2 separate regions of the Homo sapiens genome follow, and region 1 is linked to region 2. The links come from fine-mapping of genetic effects on gene expression. A gene starts in region 2. The other region holds a variant in brackets. All regions are shown on one strand. Distances are between the middles of the regions. Region 1 overlaps RAB11FIP3 (RAB11 family interacting protein 3). Region 2 holds the start of CAPN15 (calpain 15).

Region 1 (12,396 bases), 22 kb after region 2:
CCCCACTGCACTCTAGCCTGGGCGACAGGGTGACACTTGGTCTCAAAAAAAAAAAAAAAAAAAAAAGGCCGGGCGCGATGGCTCATGCCTGTAACCCCAGCACTTTGGGAGGCCGAGGCAGGTGGATCACGAGGTCAGGAGATCAAGACCATCCTGGCTAACACGGTGAAACCCCGTCTCTACTAAAATTACAAAAAATTAGCCGGGCGTGGTGGCAGGCACCTGTAGTCCCAGCTACTCGGGAGGCTGAGGCGGGAGAATGGCGTGAACCCGGGAGGCAGAGCTTGCAGTGAGCCGAGATCGCGCCACTGCACTCCAGCCTGGGCGACAGAGCAAGACTCCATCTCAAACCCACCCACCCCCACCCAAAAAAAAAAGATTGGTATTTTAAAAAGACTGGATACGTTGGTTAGACATGGATTTACAGAAACCAGCACCCGCACAGCGTCAGGGTCAGTCTTTGAACCGATCCCTTGTGGTCTTTGGGAGAGTTTCAAAGTCTTCTCCACATAGCTTTGCCCCTTTTTCTAAACTTTCAGGTTATTCCTAGCCACTGCCGGTTCTGGGGTGGGCGGGCTGTCGGAACCTCTCCTGCCTGGCCTGCAGTTTCTGGGGTGGGTGGGCTGTCAGGAACCTCTCCTACCTGGCCTGCAGGTTCTGGGGTGGGCGGGCCGTCGGGGAACTTCTCCTACCTGGCCTGCAGGTTCTGGGGTGGGCGGGCCATCAGGGAACTACTCCTACCTGGCCTGCAGGTTCTGGGGTTGGCGGGCCGTCAGGAACCTCTCCTACCTGGCCTGCAGTTTCTGGGGTGGGCGGGCCGTCAGGAACCTCTCCTGCCTGGCCTGCAGTTTCTGGGGTGGGCGGTCTGTCAAGAACCTCTCCTACCTGGCCTGCAGTTTCTGGGGTGGGCGGGCTGTCGGGAACCTCTCCTGCCTGGCCTGCAGTTTCTGGGGTGGGCGGGCCGTCGGGAACCTCTCCTACCTGGCCTGCAGGTTCTGGGGTTGGCGGGCCGTCGGGGAACTTCTCCTACCTGGCCTGCAGGTTCTGGGGTTGGCGGGCCGTCGGGGAACTTCTCCTACCTGGCCTGCAGGTTCTGGGGTTGGCGGGCCGTCGGGGAACTTCTCCTACCTAGCCGGCAGGTTCTGGGGTTGGCGGACTGTCGGGGAACTTCTCCTACCTGGCCTGCAGGTTCTGGGGTTGGCGGGCTGTCGGGAACCTCTCCTACCTGGCCTGCAGTTTCTGGGGTGGGCGGGCCGTCAGGAACCTCTCCTGCCTGGCCTGCAGTTTCTGGGGTGGGCGGGCTGTCAAGAACCTCTCCTACCTGGCCTGCAGTTTCTGGGGTGGGCAGGCTGTCGGGAACCTCTCCTGCCTGGCCTGCAGTTTCTGGGGTGGGCGGGCCGTCGGGAACCTCTCCTACCTGGCCTGCAGGTTCTGGGGTTGGCGGGCCGTCGGGGAACTTCTCCTACCTGGCCTGCAGGTTCTGGGGTTGGCGGGCCGTCGGGGAACTTCTCCTACCTGGCCTGCAGGTTCTGGGGTTGGCGGGCCGTCGGGGAACTTCTCCTACCTGGCCGGCAGGTTCTGGGGTTGGCGGACTTTCGGGGAACTTCTCCTACCTGGCCTGCAGGTTCTGGGGTTGGCGGACTTTCGGGGAACTTCTCCTACCTGGCCTGCAGGTTCTGGGGTTGGCGGGCTGTCGGGAACCTCGCCTACCTGGCCTGCAGTTTCTGGGGCTGGCGGGCTGTTGGGGACCGTCTCCTACCTGGCCTGCAGGTTCTGGGGTGGATGGGCTGTTGGGAACCGCCTACCTGGTCTGCAGGTTCTCGATCTCAATGCTCTTCTCCCTCTCCATCTTGCACAGGAGCTCCTTCTGACGCCGGGTCTCTTCCAGGACCATCTCGCAGGCTCTCAGCTCCTGCTCCTTCAGCTGCTCCTCCAGGGCGTTTGCTCTTGAAAGGCAAAGGGAGGAGCTGAGCTGTCTCCAGGCAGGGTGTGCAGTGGCTCCACCCATGCCCAGAAGCTGCCTCAGGACCTCCAGAGAACCTGCCTCCACTCGGGAGTAGGGCACCGAGAAGGGCATCCCCGAGCTCTGGTCAAGGCAGTTCTGAAGCAGCGAATACACCCCCAGATGGCCTCGCCTCCCACACTAAAGGCACCTGGGGTGGCCGGAGCAGTGTCCACTGCACCTAGGCCCAGCTGATACCCACAGGCACTGCCCGCTTGTGGCCTGTGGACCGCAGCACTCAGAGGGCCTGAGCCCGCCAGGTAACTTCTCCTGGTGCACTCTGTGTTCATGCAGCTGCTCCACCTGCAGCCACTACACACAACGCGTGCGCTCAGAGCCCAGAGGCACGGAGCCTCGGGACGGGGCGTGGAGGTGCCAGGGCCACTACACACAACGCGTGCGCTCAGAGCCCAGAGGCACGGGGACTCGGGACGGGGCGTGGAGGTGCCAGGGCCACTACACACAACGAGTGCGCTCAGAGCCCAGAGGCACGGGGACTCGGGACGGGGCGTGGAGGTGCCAGGGCCACTACACACAACGCGTGCGCTCAGAGCCCAGAGGCACGGGGCCTCGGGACGGGGCGTGGAGGTGCCAGGGCCCAAGGGCCACAGCATTTCCAGGAAGTGAGTGTCTGATGAGCACGTGGTCCGCGGCAGCTGAACACCAGAGAACTGAGTGTGCTGGCGGAGTCTGCCTTCAGCTGCAGTACAGTCAGTTCATGGCACATCACCCAAAGGTGCTCACGAGGCTTCCTGAGATGCCAGGTCCACATGGGAGCCAGGACGAGTCTGGCTCTGGCAGCTGGGCACATCCGGGCCCCAGAGGCTGTGAGGGGCCACAAGTGGGGGGGGGGCCCACTCTGCTCCCAGTCCCCTCCAGGCTGGGGAAGTGGGTATAGAGACCAGTCCCATCCAGGTCACCTCAGAGCAGAGGCAGGGCAGGTGTCAGCTAGACCACAGGGGAAAGGGAATATTCCCACAGGGCAGGGAGACCCTGGCCTTCCTGAGATCTTCACAACCATCCGCAGGAGACAGGACTGAACCATCCCAAAGAGAAGGGCACAGGCCCTGCCCACTGACACAGCACAGCCCACGCCCTCTGGCCCTGCCTCGCACAGAGCCTCTCATCCTTGTGGTGCCTCACACGCAGGAGTGAACAGATGGCCAAAGATCACCAGACACAACAGGAAAGCTTTCAACAGGAAGTGGCCAAAGCAAACACCAAGTGAGGACCCAGGGAGACACATGATGCAGCAGACAGCAGGGAAAGGTCCCCGAGCCAGCGGCCTCCGCGAGCAGAGAGCCAAAGCTGCAGCGTCAGGGCAGCCTGCTGCAGAAGAGACAAACAACAAGGAACAGCTCCCAGGAACTGAAAGCGTGGGAAGGACAATTTAAAAGTCCGATTGAGATGCCGGGCTCACGCCTGTAATCCCAGCACTCTGGGAGGCAGAGGCGGGCAGATCACCTGAGATCAGGAGTTCGAGACCAGCCTGACCAATATGGTGAAACCCTGAATCTACTAAAAATACAAAAATTAGCCGGATGTGGTGGCAGGTGCCTGTAGTCCCAGCTACTCGGGAGGCTGAAGCACGAGAATCATTTGAACCCAGGAGGCAGAGGTTGCACTGAGCAGAGATCACACCACTGCACTACAGCCTGGGCAACAGAGTGAGACTCTGTCTCAAAAAAAAAAAAAAGATCTGATCAAGAGTTGAAGGAGAAAACTGAGAATATTACATAGAAAAAAAGAACAGAAAGATAAAATTAGAGACGAGGAAAGTTTAAAAAAGGAGAGGAAACATCCAGAAGGCCCACTGTGTGACTAGCAGATGTTCAGACAGATGAGAGGGAGAGGCCGCATGGTGAAATAACTTCAGAAGTCTTCCCACAGCGAAAGGACGCGTTTTCCAGATTTAAAGGCTGAAAACCTAGGCCAGGCGCGGTGGCTCATGCCTGTAATCCCAGCACTTTGGGAGGCCGAGGCAGATGGATCACTTGAGGTCAGGAGTTCAACACCGGCCTGGCCAACATGGTGAAACCCCGTCTCTACTAAAAATACAAAAATCAGCCGGGCACAGTGGCGCATGCCTGTAATCCCAGCTACTTGGGAGGCTGAGGCAGGAGAATCACTTGAACCCGGGAGGCGGAGGTTGCCGTGAGCGGAGATTGTGCCATTGCACTCCAGCCTGGGTGACACAGCAAGGCTCTGTCTCAAAAAACAAAACAAAACAAAACAAAACGAAATAAAGGCTGAAAACCAGGTGCACAGCACGGCAAATAATACAAGATCCTCCTCCAAGTATGTAGGGTGGGAAACAGAAGTTACAGAGAACATCAAGGCCCTGCGGCACCAGAGGTTCCTCAGTCACAGCACCGGGTCAGAGGTCTTCACATTCTCAGGGAATTCGATCTCTGACCTAGAATTTTATGCCCAGCTACACTATGGACTGGAGCAGGGTGGGAGGAAAAAGCACTTCCACACAAGCAGTTCTCAGAGCATCTGGCTCCTGTGCTCCCTTTTCCAGGCAACTATCAGTGACATACTCAGAAAATGAGTTGGCAAAACAGAAGAAAACGTGGGACCCAGAAAATAAGGAATCAAACACAGGAGAAAGCACTCGGAATTCCTAGGATGGCAGCTGTACGGCACAGCTAGAGAGCAAATGGCTCAGAACGGGCAGATGATACTGAAAACGGGAAACGTACTCTTAGGATGGCAGCTGTATGGTAGGGCTAGAGAGCAAATGGCTCAGAACGGGCAGATGATACTGAAAACGGGAAACGTACTCTTAGGATGGCAGCTGTATGGTAGGGCTAGAGAGCAAATGGCTCAGAACGGGCAGATGATACTGAAAACGGGAAACGTGTTGTTTAGGACGTTGGAGGTGAGCACCACAGGGAACAGCCACAGGAACTGAATGTGGCCGGGGCTGCACTGCAGACGGTCAGTGGGTGGTGCCAGGCGGCAGTGTGGACTTCACACCACACACACGGAAAACAGATGAACATACTCCAGACTCAAATGAAACCTCCACAGTCAACTCGACAAAGGCATCTAGGCTGGACATGGTGGCTCACGCCTCTGATTTCAGCACTTTGGGGGGCCAAGGTGGGAGGATCGCTTGAGGCCAGGCGTTTGAGACCAGCATGGGCAACATGGCAAGACCTCATCTCTATAAAAAAATTAAAAACTAGGCCGGGCACGGTGGCTCACGCCTGTAATCCCAGCATTTTGGGAGGCTGAGGCAGGCAGATCACAAGGTCAGGAGTTCAAGACCAGCCTGGTCAATATGGTGAAACCCCGTCTCTACTAAAAATACAAAAATTAGCCCAGCGTGGTGGTGCATGCCTGCAAGTCCCAGCTACTCAGGAGGCTGAGGCAGAAGAATCGCTTGAACCTGGGATGCGGAGGTTGCGGTGAGCCAAGATTGCGCCACTGCACTCCAGCCTGGAGACAGAGAGAGACCCCGTCTCAAAAAAAAAAAAAAAAAAGCTGGGTGTGGTGGTGCACACCTGTAGTCCCAGCTACATCGAAGGCTGAGGGAGGCGGGTCGCTTGAGCCTGGGAGGTGGAGGCTGTAGTCAGCACTCAGCCTGAGCAACAGAGCGAGGCCCTGTCTCTCAAAAAACAAAACAAAACAAGTGCATCTGGCAGCCCCCCGGATTCTCCTTGACAAGGAGGAGACAGTGGTCTTTGGTGGCACTGCTTATGTGTAGCGCACTACGGGAGTCCAGCCCCTTCACCAGCATGCCTGGCCCCTCTCCACTCTGCAGCAGGGGCTGGTAGCAGGCCCTCTTCTGCTG[A/G]GAATCCTGGAGAACGGGCAGCCGCCAAGCCCAGGGTCTTCACTCCACAAGAGCACATGCTTTGCTTTGTTAGAATTAAAATGATGTGCAAGTTATGCCCACAATCCCATGAGGCATTCCAATTCTCAGCGCTCACAGGGCAGATGGTCACAAATGTTAGTACCGTGAGGGTGAGGGCTTGGGGGCTTTGGGGATGCTGACCACAAATGCCCTGCTGCCAACACACGTGTGTGCAGGCTGCTCAGAGCCCTGAATCTACCTGCTCAGTGGTGATGAAGACACTGAAGCTTCAAGGGACAGGGCCCTTGGCCGAGCTGAGAATATGTGGAAGAGCCGGGATGTGCCCGCGCAGCTGGGCAGGGACAGAAGCTCACAGGAAGAACCTCTTCTGCAGATCCCACAGGTGCCTCATAGGCCTCCTGGCTGCCTCCTCTGCCCACAAGAGGCTGCCGGTGCCCAGCTACAGGTGTCATAGCCTGGGTAGCTGACTCCTGGGACAAGCTCATCTTACTTTGCACCGGAAACAGTCCTGCAAATCGGCTATGAGACAACATGGCGTGCCTCGTGTGAAAAACACCGAGAATTACACGGTATTCTAAGAAAAGTCTGCAAACCAGAGTGAGGCAAGCAGCTCCCACTCTTTCTCTGCAAACACGGCGTCACACTTCGCTTCCTCCCCAGCACTCCTGCCCACAGCGATGAGACTGCGCGTCCTGTCGCGTACTCAGCAGTCACTGCTCATTTCGCTTTCTGCTGCTGAGCGACTTCTCTAACCTGCATTCTTCCAGGACGGGCAAACCCCGTATGGACCAGAGTGGTGGGAGAGCTGCACCTCCAGGCCTGCTGGTGAGGCTGAGCACTGCGTGGGTTCGCAGTCAGTTCCTCCTCTGTGTGGGTCAGGTCTCAGCGCTCCCGAGAGGGAGGCAGTGCCCTCCTCTGGCCCTCTGTGTGTCTAGGGTTCCATGAGAGCACCAGTCAGAGCCTCGGGTCGCCTGCCTGCAGCCCACTGGGTAGGCTCAGATGACCACCTGGCACCACCCCCTCAGCCGGCTTCCAACGGGGATGGACGGGTGGCCAAGCCCCTGCTGTGTGAGGTAAAGAGAAGTAAATGGGGGCTGACAGGCGGGCACAGGAGGCGCCACGCAGAGGCCCGGGTCTCCTGGCCCAGGCTCACCTGTGCACCAGCTGCAGGTTCTCCTGCCTCAGGCGGCTGTGTTGCTCACCGGTGGCTGCCGTGTCCTTTTCCAGCTCCAGCACACGCCTTTCCAGGAAGACAACCTTGGCAATGAGACCAGGCTTCAGGGTCAGGCAGCCAGAAGCAGAAGGGCCTGCACCCCCAAGGGAACAACCTGGGAGGCCGCCTGGGGATTTTCTCAGCACAGAATCAGATCCACCTAGCTAGGCTGGTGTTGGATCCAACTTGTCCCATAAACCCACAAAGGTGCAGCTCCTAATGGGGCCGGGGTCTTGGGGAGCACTGTCATTCGACCCACAAATGCACACAGTGCCGCAGCTCTGAGGGCTCGGGGCCCAGGGGTGCCTTTGGACTGGCTGGCTGGTGGGCAGCAAGACTCAGCCCCCCAACACACAGTTGGGTCTCTGCTCAGCCAGATGCAGCTCACAGAGGCAGCCCAGGTGCCCATGGATGCAAGGGACAGACAGATCCATGTCTCGGTCCCTCCCTCAGAGAGTTCACACCAAGATGAGAATCAGACACCTGCGGAGGTAGGAGAAGGAGTGAAGGGAGCAGAGGAGGACTTGGCCTGGGTCAGCAGACTTGAGATGCTAGAGAAGTTGTAGGGAGGAGGTGGTGGGGATGCAAGAGGAGGTGAAGTACAGGAGGAGGTGAGGAGGTACAGGAGGAGGTGAGAGAGTACAGGAGGAGATGGGGGTATAGGAGGAGGTGGGGGAGCAGGAGGAGGTGAGGGGGTACAGGAGGTGAGGGGTGCAGGAGGAGGTAAGGGGGTACAGGAGATGAGGGGGTACAGGAGGTGAGGGGGGTACAGGAGGAGATGGGGGTGCAGGAGGAGGTGAGGAGGGTGCAGGAAGAGGTGAGGGGGTATAGGAGGAGGTGAGGGGGTATAGGAGGAGGTGAGGCGGTACAGGAGGAGGTGAGGGGGTACAGGAGGTAAGGGGGGTGCAGGAGGAGGTGAGGGGGTACAGGAGGAAGTGAAGGGTACAGGAAGAGGTGAGGGGGGTACAGGAGGAGGTGAGGGGGTACAGGAGGTGAGGGGTGCACAAGGAGGTGAGGGGGTACAGGAGGAGATGGGAGTGCAGGAGGAGGTGAGGGGGTACAGGAAGAGGTGAGGGGGGTACAGGAGGAGGTGAGGGGGTACAGGAGGTGAGGGGTGCACAAGGAGGTGAGGGGGTACAGGAGGAGATGGGAGTGCAGGAAGAGGTGAGGGGGGTACAGGAGGAGGTGAGGGGGTACAGGAGGTGAGGGGTGCACAAGGAGGTAAGGGGGTACAGGAGGAGATGGGAGTGCAGGAGGAGGTGAGGGGGTACAGGAGGAGGTGAGGGGGGTACAGGAGGAGGTGAGGGGGTACAGGAGGAGGTGAGGGGGTACAGGAGGAGGTGAGGGGGTACAGGAGGTGAGGGGGTGCACAAGGAGGTGAGGGGGTACAGGAGGAGATGGGAGTGCAAGAGGAGGTGAGGGGGTACAGGAGGAGGTGGGGGGGTACAGGAGGAGGTGAGGGGGTACAGGAGGTGAGGGGGTACACAAGGAGGTGAGGGGGTACAGGAGGAGGTGAGGGGGTACAGGAGGTAGTGAGGGGGTACAGGAGGTAGTGAGGGGGTACAGGAGGTGGTGAGGGGGTACAGGAGGTGGTGAGGGGGTACAGGAGGAGATGAGGGGTACAGGAGGAATTGAGGGGGTACAGGAGTAAGTGAAGGGGTCACAGAAGGTGAGGGGGTGCAGAAGGTGAGACGGAGTCTCCCTCTGTCGCCCAGGCTGGAGTGCAGTCGTGCAATCTCGGCTCACTGCAACCTCCACCTCCCAGGTTCAAGTGATTCTCCTGCCTCAGCCTCCCAAATAGCTGGGATTACAGTTGCCCGCCACCATGCGTGGCTAACTTTTGTATTTTTAGTAGAGACGGGTTTTCACTATGTTGGCCAGGCTGATCTCAAACTCCTGACCTCAAGTGATCTGCCCGCCTAGGCCTCCTAATGTGCTGGGATTCCAGGCGTGAGCCACCACATCTGGCTGAAAAGCGGGTCTTGACCACGGCAAGGCTGCCTTGCCCTGGCTGCTGTCACCCATTCCATTCAAGGCCCCAGGAGAAGCCCGTTCCTCAGGCTGTTGGCTCTGCAGTAACTGCAGGGCCAGCCCTTTTCTCCCAAATCATGGGTGCCCCAGGTCGCGTCTCCATGGGCCTGGTGGACTGAATGTCTGGGTGTCCCCCAGCCCGACTCAGACACAGTGGGGGTGGGATACCCGAGGGTGCTCACTCACTGCCCAGTCCACTCCTCCCAGCTGGCCCTTCGTGCACAACAGGAAGACTCCTTTTTCTCACATGGCCACGAGACCCCTTGGGGAAACCTGCCAAAGAGCATCGGGGCTGGATGGACAGTCTGGGGAGCCCTGGAGGACATGGGGTCACCTCCGGCTGTGCTGTCCCCACCTCCCGGGGTGTCTGCAGCGGCCCTTAGGCGTGGCTGTGTTCTAAATCCCCTACTTGCCACCTACCCAGCCCTCCAGGGCCTACCTTGTCAGCAATGTCCTCCTCTGGGCCCTCCATGAGCTCGGGGGAAGGGTCCTCCAGGGCCTCCATGGTCAGGGCCCCTGACTGGTGCAGGTACCTACAGAAAAGGCACAACAACAGAGGGAAGAAAGGGAAAAACCACAGGACATGCTCCGTCAGCACAAGCACTCCCAAGTCAATCTGAAAAGCAGGCAGCAGCATTGCAGGGGACAGGTCCTCCCCTGATCTGGGTGGTGGTCTTCTCCCACTTAAAGCACTATATACAGGGGGAGGTCCCAGGCTGGACATCTTTACCAGGGGCTGGGAGAAAGCAGGCCGTGCTCTGTGGTCTCAGAGTCTTCCTGGCGCTCTTTGGAACCTGACAGAACATGACCTCAGTCCCAGCCAGCGAGTGGCAGAGAGGACTTTGTACTTGGCTGCAATAAAACATGCCCTTCTTCGCAGAGACACGAACAATCTCGTCTCTACCAGAGGCCTGTGAGACATCAGCTCAGGACCTTGACCTGCAGACACCTCCCCTGTGCACATTCTTGATCTCAGACTTTCACAGGTGCTTTCTGTGGCAGGAAGAGTGAGGGTCCCAGGAAAGGTGTGGATCCCAGAAGTCTCACTCAGTGTCACCCTCACGGACACACTGGGAAACTGGTCCGACCGAGTCCAGGAAGACAGCAGACACACGTGTCCTCTGTGGCACCAGCTCCTGTGGACACGCCCCCAGCACCGCAGGCCATGCCAGTTACTACCCGGGCCAGGCTCGGGGACACAGCCTCATGGTCCTGAGTAGACGCAAAGGCCCATAGGCTGCGGCCTTGGGGCAGGAGCTTCTCCAGGGAGTGTGAACTTAGGCGCGCAGTAAGCGCGTGCTTGTGGTCACCACGTGGTCAGATTCGCTGTGGTGAATCTGTACCAACCCAAACTTGCCGGGAGTACAGAAAACTCTCAGAGCACTCGCACAGAAGAGCCAACAGCAAAGGTGCGTGTTCAGTTCTTTATACATCCTGGGAACCTCAGTACCAAGCCAGGCTCCAGGCTGACAGCCTGATGCTCAGAACTGCGTGACCGTTAAAAAGCACTGGCCCTCTCCGAGCTTCCTTGCCTATGAAATGGGGGGACCCTCTCCCAGCCTCCTTGCCTATGAAATGGGGGGACCCTCTCCCAGCCTCCTTGCCTATGAAATGGGGGGACACTCTCCCAGACTCCTTGCCTATAAAATGGGGGGACCATCTCCCAGCTTCCTTGCCTATGAAATGGGGGATCCTCTCCGAACTTCCTTGTCTGTGAAATGGGGGGACCCTCTCTGAACTTCCTTGCCTGTGAAATGGGGGGACCCTCTCCCAGCTTCCTTGCCTATGAAATGGGGGACCTTCTCCGAACTTGTCTGTGAAATGGGGGGACCCTCTCCCAGCTTCCCTGCCTATGAAATGGGGGGAGCCTCTCTGAACTTGTCTGTGAAATGGGGGGACCCTCTCCCAGCTTCCTTGCCTGTGAAATGGGGGGACCCTCTCCCAGCTTCCTTGCCTATGAAATGGGGGACCCTCTCCCAGCTTCCTTGCCTGTGAAATGGGGGACCCTCTCCGAGCTTCCTTGCCTATGAAATGGGGGGACCCTCTCCCAGCTTCCTTGCCTATGAAATGGGGGGATCCTCTCCGAGCTTCCTTGCCTATGAAATGGGGGGACCCTCTCCCAGCTTCCTTGCCTATGAAATGGGAGACCCTCTCCGAGCTTCCTTGCCTATGAAATGGGGGGACCCTCTCCGAGTTTCCTTGCCTATGAAATGGGGGGACCCTCTCCCAGCTTCCTTGCCTATGAAATGGGGGTCTAGAGGCAACTGAGGTTTAACCAAGGTCATGCATACAAACAGCTTGGCTAGGGACGTAGCAGAGTAAGAATTCCATAAAATGTTAATATTTTTCCACTGAAAATGTCTACCAAGTGTATGAAGTTCGATTTGCTTCTCAGTACGGACTGGGCTTGAACATTTCCATCTTTTTCCCCATAAACGCTCTGAGGAGACAAGCCCTGTGAACGTGCACCAGCTGGAACACACCGGTGCCCTTCTGGGGCTCTGGGGATTTCATCAGATTCTCAAAAGCTGCTGCTGATACAGATCATGTTCTTGGCCAGTCGCTGCTCTTAAACGCCCATGACCTTGCCCCCAAACATGAGCCACTCCAGGCATGAAGCTGCAACCCAGAGCCCATCCTGAGAGGCCACGACCTGTCAGCACTTCTGAGCTGTCCTAGAGGCGTAGGCACTTCTGGGGCTGACTCGGGGACACAGCCATCCCCAGGCACCCAGCGTGCAGCCACCACACGTGGCCACCAACGTGAGGCAGAGGGTCCTCAGCATGGGTCATGCGGCTGCTTATTTATTTACTTATTTAATTTTTTTTTTTTTTTTTTTTTTTTTTTTTGCGACAGAGTCTTGCACTGTCACCTGGGCTGGAGTGCAGTGGTGCAATCTCAGCTCACTGCAACCTCTGCCTTCCGGGTTCAAGCCATTCTCCTGCCTCAGCCTCCCAGGTAGCTGGGATTACAGGCACCTGCCACCATGCCCAGCTAACTTTTTGTATTGTTTTTTTTAGTAGAGATGGGGTTTCACTATGTTGGCCAGGCTGGTCTCAAACTCCTGACCTCGTGATCTGTGCGCCTCGGCCCCCCAAAGTGCTGGGAGTACAGGCGTGAACCACCGCGTCCGGCTGGGGCTGCTTATTTAAATCCCCTAGAAAGAGGGATTCTCCAGCTACACCACACCCTCACTTGGAAGGACCCTCCTCCCAGAGAGGGAGCTGTGGAAAAAGCCTGACCTGCCCCACAGGGCAGTAGGTCGAGCCTGGCTGGTGAGCAAGGAGGTACGGGGATCCCTGAGGCCTCCCACCCAGGGCCCAGGGA
Region 2 (12,396 bases):
GCAACCCCACTGCGCCCTAAAACTGCACCCACCAGACCAGAGGCTGCTGGTCCAGGCAGGAAACAAGAGCCAGCCACTACCGGGACGAAGCTCAGTCGGTGCCCACAACCTGAAGACAGGCAACTCTGCCTTTGTCCCCACTGACGCTAAGGCCCCTGTGGAGGAGATGACCCCAAGGACAGGAAGCTCCTGCATGAGTCGGGTGGGAGGGCTGAGGACAGGGCTTCCCATCGTCCCTACAAGAAACAAGGCCAGGGCCCCGCCCTGGGGGAGGACGTGGACTCCGACCGCCCGCCCCAAATGACAACTGGCAGGACAGCATTCTCCAGAAACAGGTGCAGGCCGCTCCCCAGGGACCAGGCACCCTCCTGGCTGAGGATAGCGGTGGGGGCCGTGCACAGGCTCCTCACCAGCCCCAGCCCCAGCGCTGCCGTGGGGATGGGGAGCTCCATCTGGGGGCCGGGGCCACAGCACAGGGGAGGTCCCCAAAGGGACAAACACCCCTGTCGGGACCCCGGGCCGCCCTCACCGTCGCCTCCCACGACAGGACCACGGCCCAAACGGCTGGGAGAACGAGGCTCTTCAGGGCAGGCAGGGCTGCCGGCCTCCAGGGGTTCTGTGAATCAAGGGCTCCGAGAGGCCCCCCAGCCGTGGGCACTCCAACCCTGCTGCTCCACAAACAGTTCTGCAGCGCAAGCAAACCCATAAACGAGCCGCAGGGCTTGGGAACAAACTCACCTGAAGCTGCAGCAAGCTCCCAGGCCCTCTCTGTGCCGCGTCTGGGCTGCTGCCTAGAAAGGGAGGCATTTAATCAGGCACCTCAGCTTCCACCAGGAGGACTCTGACCCTGGAACACAGAGCCCCGCCTCCAGCCCTCTCTGCAGGAGCCAGAGTCCCGGGAAATCAGCCCCGGGAGACCCTTCGCCTTAGAAGCTGTCCGAGCTTCTGTCCTTGGGTGTCTGTCCGAGCGCCAAAGGCAGCCCGGGGAGCAGCAGGGGCTCAGCAGGCTCCTCACTACCCTGGTTTAAGGCCCTTGACCTGTCCAGTGCGGTCAACCTCCGGCCAGCCAGGACCGCAGACAGGGCCATTCAAGATCCTGTCCGGACCTCCCACGGCCCGACCCTGCTACAAGGAGCAGGCCGTGGGCAAGAGTCCATGAGCGGGGCTGCAGAGCAGCACCAGCCAGGGAGGGCGGCCGAGCTTCCCAGGCACTGCCAGGGAAAGGTGCCCAGCTTGGGCAGGCACAGGCACACAGCCAGGTGGCCACCTAGACTCCCCCGGACCCCAGCCCGAGTGCCACCCGGCCACTACAGCTGTCAGCAGGGCGGCCACTGCTTCGAGCCAGGCGGCTTTGCTTCTCTAAGGTCATGCTCTCCATGGCGGACCCACTGCGGTGGGCAGGATGCTCACGCTTCCCGCCCTGTCCTTCCTGGGCCCTGTGTAGGGCCCACCATGGACTCCTCACTCAGCCATCACCCTCTTTTTTGTTGGTTTTAAATTTTTTATTTTATTTTTTGAGATAGAGCCTCGCTCTGTCACCCAGGCTGGGGTGCAGTGGTGCAATCTCAGCTCACTGCAGCCTCCGCCTCCCAGGTTCAAGCTATTCTCCTGCCTCAGCCTCCCAAGTAGCTCGGATTACAGGCGCCCGCCACCGTGCCCAGCTAATTTTTGTATTTTTAGTAAAGACGAGGTTTCACCATGTTGGTCAGGCTGGTCTCGAACTCCAGACCTCAGGTGATCCACCCGCCTCGGCCTCCCCCAGTGCTGGGATTCCAGGCATGAGCCACCATGCCCGGCCCCTCACCCTCTTTTGTGATCAGCATGAGGATGGTGTGCAGGTGTGTCCAGTGGCACAGGCATCACCTGTTTTTTTTTTTTTTTTCTCTGACAGAGTCTCGCTCTGTTGCCCAGGCTGGAGTGCAGTGGTGTGATCTCGGCTCACTGCAAGCTCCACCTCCTGGGTTCACGCCATTCTCCTGCCTCAGCCTCCCGAGTAGCTGGGACTACAGGCGCCTGCCACCAGGCCCGGCTAATTTTTTTGTATTTTTAGCAGAGATGGAGTTTCACCGTGTTAGCCAGGATGGTCTCAATCTCCTGACCTCAGGTGATCCACCCGCCTTGACCTCCCAAAGTGCTGGGATTACAGGCGTGAGCCACAGCGGCTGGCTTTTTTTTTTTTTTTGAGACAGGGTATCACTCTGTCACCTAGGCTGGAGTGCAGTGGTGCCATCTCGACTCACTGCAACCTCTGCCTCCCGGGTTCAAGCAATTCTAGTGTCTCAGCCTCCCAAACATCTGGGATTACAGGCACACACCACCACGCCCAGCTAATTTTTGTATTTTTAGTAGAGATGGGGGTTTCGTCACGTTGGCCATGCTGGTCTCTACCTCCTGACCTCATGTGATTCACCCACCTTGGCCTTCCAAAGTGCTAGGATTACACGCATGAGCCACTGAGCCCAACCGAATTCTACTTTTTTTTCTTTTTTTTTTTTTTGAGACGGAGTATAGCTCTGTCGCCTAGGCTGGAGTGCAGTGGTGCCATCCCGGCTAACTGCAACCTCCGCCTCCCAGGTTCAAGCAATTCTACAGTCTCAGCCTCCTGAGTATCTGGGATTACAGGCACACACCACCACACCCAGCTAATTTTTTTATTTTTAGTAGAGATGGGGTTTCGCCATTTTGGTCAGGCTGGTCTCGAACTCCTGACCTCAGGCAACCCACCTGCCTCGGCCTCTGAAAGGGCTGGGATTACAGGTGTCAGCCACCGCACCCAGCCCCGACTTCTATTTTTAACAGGAAAAAAGGACCAGACAAGCACTCGTGGTTTTTGGCACTTCTCTACTTCTCTGCTTGCCATGTGGTGGCAGAAGCAGCCCTGGTCTGGGCAGCCCGGTGACCTCACTGGTGGCCAAGCAGAAGCCTCTGGGACACAGGGGGCACCTGTCACCCCAGAGAAGGGGACGGGGGCCTTGGGAGCCGTGTGGCCCTGGGCACCTGTCATCCCAGAGAAGGAGACGGAGGCCTTGGGAGCCGTGTGGCCCTGGGGGCACCTGTCACCCCAGAGAGGGAGACGGAGGCCTTGGGAGCCGTGTGGCCCTGGGGGCACCTGTCACCCCAGAGAAGGAGACGGGGGCCTTGGGAGCCGTGTGGCCCTAACCCAGAGGAGGCCTCGTGGCACCTCTTTCCCCATCAGCTCCAGCCTCTCTGCAGCCACCTTTTCAGGAGGGGCAGGAACTCCAGAAAGCTCCAAAACTTATTGCCTTTCTCATTACAGGGGACAGGGAGGTGGGGGGTAGGGAGTGGGGATCAGGCAGGGGCAGAAGGTGTAAGAGGTTCAACCTGCCTGGGGGACTTCACTTACAAAGGGCAGAGGCTGGGTGTGGTGGCGCCCACCTGTAGTCCCAGTATTTGGGAGGCTGAGGCAGGAAGATCACTTGAGCCCAGGAGTTTGAGGCTGCAGCGAGCTATGATTGCAACTGCACTCCAGCGTGGGCAACAGAGCACGACCCTGGCTCAAAAAAATAAAACTTAAAAAATGTTAAAATAAAGGGCAACTTTTTGAAGAGAAGTGAGGGGAAGGCCATGAGGAGGAACTCCCTCATTAGCGGAGCAAGCTCCTTCCACAGAGGAGCAGACGCTGCAGTCACTGTGACATTTAAAAAGCAGCGATGGCCCTGCGTCCTCCTGACATCCCGTCTAGGACCGCCAGGGAGGCGGGGATGGCAACCCTTGAAGCTTCCCTTTGACCTCAGGGAATCTGACAAATCGTTGTATCTGGAGGCCAGGATGGCGAGGCTGATGCCCATGACCCGACGGGACTCATGGGTCCACCCTGGTGCCCTGGATGAGTTCTGGGGAGGGCGGCCACACTGCTGGCTTCCCATGCAGCACTCAGGCAGGCCCCTCAGAGTGTGCAAAGCAACAGCCTGACGCAGCTCATCTTGGGGGGCCCACGGGGTCCCTGCCCTGGGCTAGGATGCCCCCATCCTCCCACAGACCCCATTCCGTGCACCCTGTGGGCCCAGCAGCAGCCCCTGTCCTAGTGGTACAATGTGGCTGTCCACAGACTCCACGCCCAGACACCTCCCTGGGCCACGCACCGGGAGGTCTCCACCCAGCTGTGTGTGACCCACATAGTGACAGGGTGTGGCTGAACGGGTCTAGGTCCAGCCCCAACCCACAGCCTCCCTGCAGCGAGACACACATGCAAAGATCACAGGCCAGCAAGCCTGTTCTCTCAGACTCAGAAACAGGCCGAGCTCAGGTGTGGCCGTGTCCACGCCACAGGGGCTGCTGTGCTACTTTCCTGGAGCACGCAGGAGTCCCCCTGGGCTGCCAGAACCCAGGTATTCAGAACTGCCTGTGGTGAGGGCCAACCCCAGGTGCTCACTGACCGCCTGCTCTGCGCACGGCTGCATAGCGCTAGACACTAGGCCTACCAAGAAACAGAAACGGACCCTGCCCTCGGCGCCACATCCAGCAGGGAGACAGGGCGGTCCCAAGTGTAAGTGCTGCAGGCAGATCCCACAGTGGGGAGCCAGGGACCAGCTACAGGGTCACATGAGAACCGCACAGACCTCAGCGTTCTCTCCAGCGTGGGGCATGAGAGGCCAGTGGCTCCACACAGCTGAGGCACAGCCTGGTGGTGAGAAAACCCACATCCACACCGAGTGGGTACGAGGGATGCGGAAGGGCTTTAGGCAGAGAACAAGTCCCACTGGGCTTCTGGGCACTCCTGCTGTGCCAGGGGTCAGAGGGCAGGACCAGAGGGACAGAGCAGGAAAACAGGAGAGCAAAGCGCACGAGGCAGCCCCCGGGTTGGGGGCCTCCTTCTTCTGTGTCTTATGAGGAAACCACCCAAGCCCACCCTCCGTGTCTCCTGTCATTTCAGCCTCACGGTCCAGGGCCGAGTGGCCACCCAGGACAGACACAGACCTGACAAGTCACCAGCCTTCCTGGGTTTCTGTCACTGTTTTTCAAAGACCCCAAGCTGTTTTGTTTAATGATGTCGTCCTCCTTCTCAGCACCTGTCCACGCCTGTTGCCATGAGTAGAGGCATCACACCGCGGGCCAGAGGGCTGGACCAGGGGCAACTCGGCCACCAACGGCCGAGTTCTTCACTGAGCGGCTCAGGCCCATGAACAACACCTGTGGTTCCGGAGGATTTTCCGGGCAGCAGAATCCTTCCCTCCAATTGCCTCGTGTGAACTGGTGGAACCAGCAGGAGGGAGAGACCAGGCGCTCAGCCTCCCTCGGCCCCTCCCCTGCCATGAACAGCTGTCTCCAGCTTCGGTTCCTCACCTGTGGCACTGGGGTTACCGGAGTGCTGCCCAAGGCCAGGGCAAGAAGCAAGTGAGGGGTGCCCGGAGAGAGAGCCAGCAGGGCTTGAGGCTGTCACACAGATGCAGCATTACAGGGGACCAGCCACTTCCTGCTCTCAGAGACCACGGTCTGTGGAGGCCCAGACAAGAGGCCCTGCGCAGTTATGCAGTTACTGAGCCTCGGGCTCTCCTGGGGACTCAGAGGTCACTGGCTCCTCTGCCAATCAAGGAGCTCTGGAGAGCCTCAGACACAGACAGAAGCAGGAAAAAGAGGGGTGCTCCTCCCGCAAGCAGAAGGACCTCGGAGGAGGCAAGGCACACCCAACCCAAGGCCAGGCCAAGCTGGTTTCCTGCAGGACCTGCCTCCCCCAGACAGGCCAGAAAAACAATTTCTCTTGCCCCACTTCACAGTTGAGAAGTCACTCAGAACCGGAAGGGAGAATCACCCCTATATCCTTGCCCAGCCCCAGACTCTGGAAACGCGGAGGCAATTACGGGGCACTCCCACACTGAACTGTGACTCACGTTTCCGCACCCCTCAGACCTGGGCAGAGGAAGAGATCCGGGTTTCCCGAAGGAGAAGCACACAACTCTTCAGCACCCAACGGAGTCCCAGTCTTCCCCACTGGCCCCACACACCCAGGCCTGGCCTCAGGTTCTGGGCCTCACCATTGCTTTCCGGGTCTTGTTACCTGCAGTCCGGTAACAAACTCCAGAGCAGTAAGGGGGCCCCGAGAGCTCGCCCGGCCAGGGCCAGCTGACCACACAAGAGTTCCCCCGGTCAGGACTAGAGGGGCCCCTTCTGCAGCCAGCGGGAGGACAGCAGATTTGCAACTTCCCAGCTGGTGCCGCAGCAGCCCCAGAGGAACACGGAAGAGAACACTGGCATGGCTGGCACAGACGGGGCTCCCGCCAGCCCCTCCACGCCAGGTGGCCGCCCCCAGGCCGTTCCCCAAGTGAGGGGAGTGATGCCCGCACCAAGCACAACATCCCTAAGGCGGCCAGGACCGCACGATGGGCCCGGATATAAGGGCACTCAAGGGCAGGCAGGGCCGAGGCCGCCTCCGGTGTGCGCGGCCCCCGGGGCTGGCCTCAAGTGACCCACATGGCCCAGGTCCCTGCCGACTTCCCGCCTTCCTCTGGGTTCCTCTGCGAAGCATCGCCCAGCCCTGGCCCCCACCAGCCTGGAGGCGCCAGCGGGCGGCGGGCTGACCCCACTCCGGGGGCCCTGCCGTCCCTGCCCTGGCTCGGAGCCCGGCGCGCCCGGCCCCCGAGGCCTCCTGCGCCCCGCCGAGCCCGCGCTCCCCGCCGCCCTCCGGGCCCGCGCTCCCCGCCCGGGGTCCCCGGCTGGGCGCCCGGCCGGGCCCGGCCGACGGGACTCACCTCCACAGCCCGGCGGCGCCGCCTCGTCCTCGCGGCCCGGGCAGCGCGGCCCCGGCCCCCGGGCCCGCTCGCCCCCGCCGGCCGATCCACAACTTCTGCCTCCGGAGAGCGGCGGGGCCCCTCTCGCCGCCGGCCGCGCTGCCCGGACGGCCTCCCGCTCCTCAGCCGCGGGGCGCCCCGACCCGGCTCCGGCCCCGGCCCCTGCCCGCGTCCGGCGCCCGCCTTACGCTGCCTTCGTAGCGTAGCGCCCGGCCCGGGCCCCGCGGCTACGGCGCGCCCGGGGCGCACGCGGCGCTGTGAATCGCGCGCCCGGACTACGGCTCCCACAGGGCTGCGCGGCGCCGACGGGGCGGAAGCTCGGGGCGGTGCCTGCGCGAGGCAGGCCGGGAGTTGTAGTCCTCGGGTGGCGCCCTCCCAGTCCGCCGACCGCCCGGGCCACTTCTCCTGCCCTCGCTGCTGGAGACGGCCGGGCCCGAGGCCTCGGTCCCCGGGAGGCGCCGCGCTCCAGGATTATCAGGGAGTGGGGCGGCCCGAGGAGGAGCTGGAACTACAACTCCCAGAGGGCCTTGCGAGGGGCACGGAGGGGCGGGGCCTGCAGCCGCGGCGTCTGCGCATCAGCGGCGTCACAGACGCGTGGGGCTCGCGGGGAGCCGGGCTGGGGCCGTCCGTGTCCCGCGGGGCTCTGGGCGGCCGCTCGACCGAGGACCCACGACTCCGCCCCGACCCCGCCGTGTTCGCGAGACCCGGAGACCCCTTCGCGCCTTCCAGGACCGCCCCTTTCGCGACGCTGCGTGCTGTGCTTGGTCCTGGCGGCCAAGAGCGGCGGTGGCAAGGGGACCGCCCTGGCCCGAGACGCGGCCTGGCCTCGCAGCGTCGCTTGGGCACAGCCTCTCTAGGCCCCTTCGTCCTCGGTCGCGGAGGGACGCCATTAAACGGCCACGCCGGGCTCAACTGGGACGCGGCCCACGGCGCCCAACCAGGGCCTGGGGGAGGGAAGCCGGGGCGACTCCTGGGTCCTTCCAGGACCCTTGCGCAGGCCTCATTCTCTCCCCGGAGGTCCCCTTCCCGCTGCCCTGAGGCCACTCTCCTGCCAGCAGCTGCTGGGCCGGCTCTCGGGAGAATGCCTTGGCGTCAAGCTTATCAGGCTGCAGGGCGGGACGCGAGTGCTGAGGGCAGCCAGACTCCCGCTCTTAGGTGCACTTGAGGAGCCTGAGAAGGCAGTGGCTCTGCGGGAGAGGGAGACACAGGAGCAGGGCTGGTCCGCCGAGATTCCGGAGAGACGGTTGTGGGCCGATTCTGTGGCGAGATTTACAAGTGGGAGGTTGGGTGACGATTGCTCCTGGGCCAGAAAATCTAAGCCAGTCTCAGCAAGACCTACAAGGCCAGGGCCAGTGCTCCTCAGAGGATATTCATGCTCCAGGAAAGCCAAGGATGGGCCTCCGTCATGCTGAGATGCCGCAGCAGGGACACCTGTGTCCCACGTGGAGCTCGGCTTCTAGCTGCAGTCAGTGCAGAAGCTGGCAGGAGGGGTTTATTTCTGTCCTCGGAAGCTTTTGGTAAGGACACTTCATTCCTGTGTCTTGGACACCTCCCCCTAGGTCTGCTGCCCCCTCTGTGGAGACAGGCAGGGCAGCTGGATGTGCCGTTTGTTCCCAGACTATATCCATGCCAAAGCATCCCAAGGGCAGGAAATGTGTCCCCGGGGGCCAGTGGGGGTCTGGGGGCACAGAGGGCTGCAGAGTGAGAGCTGGCTCTCCTCTCTGCAACTTGGACAAGGCTCTGGGACCCTGTCCTCCCCAGCTTCCTCACCTGCATGGCAGGATACTGGCCAAGTGTGGCTTTCGAACCACAGGAGAGGGTGCAGTCAAGGCCTCACTCAGGGACCGCAGGTTCTCTTCCCTTCCCAGTCCTTCCCTGGCACTGCCTAGGTGGCTCCCTGGCCAGGGGCCAGTGGTCTAGCCAGCAGGCCTTATAACCTCCCCACCAGAGAGGCAGCTGCAGTTGAACCTGTTGATCTGATGCTGAGGGCCCTGCCAGCTCACTGCAGAGTGGCCAGTTCTGGCCAGTTTTGCTAGGCCAGGCCCATTTGGGGTGAGGAGAGGGTGGGAGCACCCCAGCTCTCCCCAGTAGCCTGTCATGGTGAAGGAGGAAGCCCATTCACCCAGAAGAGGGCCTCAGGAGGCGTCTTCAAGGTGACTGAGGTTTCCCCGCACAAGGAGAGTGCTGGAGGGAATGGGTGCGATGAGAGAAATGAGTCACTCGTGCCTCCGTGAGGCCAGCCTGTGATTGTCTTGAAGATTCTGAGTCACAAGACATCAGGCACACAGGCGTGAATTGTAAATGACTGCACAGCAGAAGGTAAGTGACTCTGGATTATCCAGACCATTGACCGAGCCCTGCTCCGTGCCAGTGCTTCCTGGCCTGAGGACACGACTCTCACATCCAGACAGACCTGAGCAGCTAACGCAAGTGCGCAGAAGCTCGCCAAGTGCCCAGAAGAGCCAAGAGGCGAGCCATGAATCCCCCCTGGAGGAGAAGAGGATGGGGAGGGCCAAACAGAAAGAACTGAAACTGGAGGCATCTGTTCAGGCACCCAGAGAAAGCCTCACGCGCACAAAGCAGCAAACAGAACAAACCCCAGTGCCATCATGGAGCCCAGACTTGAGCACACAGGGACCCTGGCGTGGAGCACGAGGGTGCCAAGGCCCGCAGGTGGCTGACTTGTGTGCTCTGGTGCCATGCTCAGATTTGATGGGATGACCCTGCAATTGCCTGCTTTGTGAGCCACACAGGCCTGGGTCAAAAAGACGACGGACCACCAGCCTGGGCAACACACAAAGCGAAACCTGTCTCCACTTAAAAGATAATTAGGGTGTGGTGGTGTGTGCTTGTGGTCCCTGCTACTTGGGAGGCAGAGGCAGGAGCATCACTTGAGCCCGGGAGGTTGAGGCTGCAGTGAGCTGGGATGGCACATGGCGCTCCAGCCTGGGTGACTGAGTCCGTCTCAAAAAAAGAATGGGCGGCCGGACAGGTGAAAATAACAATGGACGGGGCCCTGGGAGAAGTTCCCGCCTTTCTCTGGGCCACCACCTCCAGGTTACTGGACTGCCAGCAGGTAGAGGGGCCAGGGTGCCATCCGGGGGGCCGCTGAGGGGGTCCAGACTTCCTATACCTGCCCTTCAGCAGAGGCAGGCTGGGGCGGTCCTCATGTGAGGGGCTCTGCACCCACATCCGGGGGGCCGCTGAGGGGGTCCAGCCTTCCTATACCTGCCCTTCAGCAGAGGCAGGATGGGGCGGTCCTCATGTGAGGGGCTCTGCACCCACGTCCGGGGCTCTTGTTCCAGGGCAGGGGCAGAGCCGCTCCTCTCTATCCTGCCGGGCAAGACTCCTTGGTGCTCTTCCATCGGGCAGAACTGACCAAGACTCAGAACATTCAATGTCAGGAGCCAGCTGGGGACAGGATCTGCCTTGGGAGACTTGGCAGGCCCAGTGACCATCCCACTGCACAGCTGGGGGTGGGGGCGACACTCCAGAGGGACACGTTCGGGCCTCCTGGGGGGTGCAGGCTTCTGGGCACGTCCACCAGGCATGCACACCGGCCACCCCACCCTGCTCTCGCTCACCCACAAGGTCTCTGGCAGCCCTTCCGGGAATGTTTCCATTTCATCCTGTGTCCTCCTGTCTCAAACTCCTTTGGGCTGGAGACCCCAGTGGGTCATCGAGGTGGGGCCAGCTGGACTGTGGACAGCCCCATGTTTAAAATCTAGCGTGGAAACTGAGGTGCTCCTAGACCACAGTGGGGTATCAGGAGGAGGAAGCTGCTCCCCTTCCCCTCCCTGGCTCTGGCCTGGCAGCGTGGAGTGAGTTCCCCTCCCCACCTCCAGCTTCTCCCTCTAGGCAGAGATGGGTCTTACTGGCACCACACAGACCCCTGGGTAGGTGGGAGAGCAGGTCTTTTTCCTGGGAGGAGGAACTTGGCCTTGGACACACCCACACCGCCCATGTCACTCCTCAGTTCTTTTTTTTTTTGAGACGGAGTCTCGCTCTGTTGCCCAGGCTGGAGTGCGGTGGCGTGATCGCTGCTCACTGCAAGCTCCACCTCCCAGGTTCACGCCATTCTCATGCCTCAGCCTCCCAAGTAGCTGGGACTACAGGTGCCGGCCACCACGCCCGGCTAATTTTTTTGTATTTTTAGTAGAGACGTGGTTTCACCATGTTAGCCAGGATGGTCTCGATTTCCTGACCTTGTGATCCGCCTGCCTGGGCCTCCCAAAGTGCTGGGATTACAGGCGTGAGCCACCGCGCCCGGCCTGTCACTCCTCAGTTCTAACTCATGAAGCAATCAGGGTTCTTGGGCCCTGTGACCTGGAACCATTCTGCTGCACCTGCACTGAGGGTTCAAGGACTCCTCACTGTAGGCCACGCCTGGTCCTCTTCTGGTCACCAGCCCGCAAGCAGCAGCTGGGCTGAGGGGACTGGCAGACCTGGGTCCTCAGCTTCCCTGGGCCTTGGTTTCTCCATCTCCATCTGCATCTGAGAGTGACAGGCAGGCGGGCATCTCGCGCGGGGGGCGGGAGAGCGAGAGCCGCAGATGCACAGTCCGCTTCCTGGATGCTGGACCAGGTGGTCCAGTTTTCAAGGCTTGTGTTTTTGGGGGACTCTTGATCAGATGGGACCACTCCCCGCAGGCCATTCTTTGTGGCTGCAGTGGCACTGAGCTCTCTCAGACTCCCTGGCTGCCCATGACCTCGGGAGCCCACTTCCGTCGGGACCTGCCTCCTCACCTTCCCGTGCCTGTGGTGCTGGTACTGTGTCTGCCCCCTCTTCTGGGGGATGTCCTCCCACCACCCTGCACATCACTGCCCTTTTAAATTCTTTCTGAAATGGGGTCTCGCTGTCGCCCAGGCTGGAGTGCAGCGGTGTGATCACAGCTCACTGTAACCTCCGTCTCCTGGACTCAAGCAATTCTCCCACCTCAGCCTCCCAAGGAACTGGGACTATAGGTGCGCACCACAATGCCTGGTTAATTTTTTATTTTTTAGAGATGGGGCCTTGCTATGTTGCCCAGGCTGGTCTTGAACTCCCGGGTTCAAGCGATCCTCCTGCCTTGGCCTCCCAAAGTGCTGAGATTATGGCGTGAGCCTCTGCGCCCTGCCCCCCACTCTTCTCTTAATCCCGGGGACGTTTTGACGGCTCTCCCGACATGGGACGTACGTCCCCAGAGGCGTGTGACCCAGAGCCCTGATGCCCACACAGCCCTGTGCTGCCCAATTTGCCCCGCCCCACCTGCCCCACCTTGATGCTGTCTCAGCAGCTCGTCAGGATCCAGAACCTGGCTGGAAAGCTGCCAGGCTCCACTGGGCCTGGAGGTGCAATCCTACGGCCTTGGAAGGGTCTTAGTCTGACCAAGCTGCAGAGCCAGGCAGGTCTGCTGGGTTCTGAGCTCAGACAACTGATGGCCTCGGACGCCTTGAGGGAAGCTGGGCCAGGCCCAGAAGACTCCCACCCCACCCTGTGGCCCCCCTGGAGGAAGAAGCCGGCCTCTGCGTGTGCAGTAACAGCTTTAATCTGTGGTGGCCCCTGCCCTCCTGCATCCAGGCAGGAAGAGCCGTTTCTCGGGGAATTAAAGCAGGAGCGTTTCCCACACTGTCTCCTGGGAGTCCATGCTTACAGTGACAGCACTGCTGAG

Evidence for each region. PIP is the estimated chance that this variant, and not a neighbour inherited with it, causes the effect.
Region 1: its variant is the best candidate, but not a certain one, in a credible set for the expression of CAPN15 in skeletal muscle (FUSION, PIP 0.83).

The regions. Positions count from the first base shown.
Region 1 is chr16:500,210-512,605 of GRCh38, reverse strand. It overlaps RAB11FIP3 (RAB11 family interacting protein 3), which reads right to left. Exons shown (of 14, transcript NM_014700.4): 7 at 9,509-9,602; 8 at 6,979-7,082; 9 at 1,806-1,946. Among named protein-coding and RNA genes, the nearest start is that of LINC00235, 21 kb to the left of the region's middle. The variant A/G (reference allele first, on the strand shown) is at 5,805.
Region 2 is chr16:522,341-534,736 of GRCh38, reverse strand. It overlaps CAPN15 (calpain 15), which reads right to left and starts at 7,025. Exons shown (of 14, transcript NM_005632.3): 1 at 6,708-7,025; 2 at 739-791. LINC00235 (long intergenic non-protein coding RNA 235) reads left to right here and starts at 7,330. Exons shown (of 1, transcript NR_024121.1): 1 at 7,330-7,890. It overlaps RAB11FIP3 (RAB11 family interacting protein 3), which reads right to left. Exons shown (of 14, transcript NM_014700.4): 14 at 11,726-12,396. RefSeq lists an enhancer at 7,905-8,466.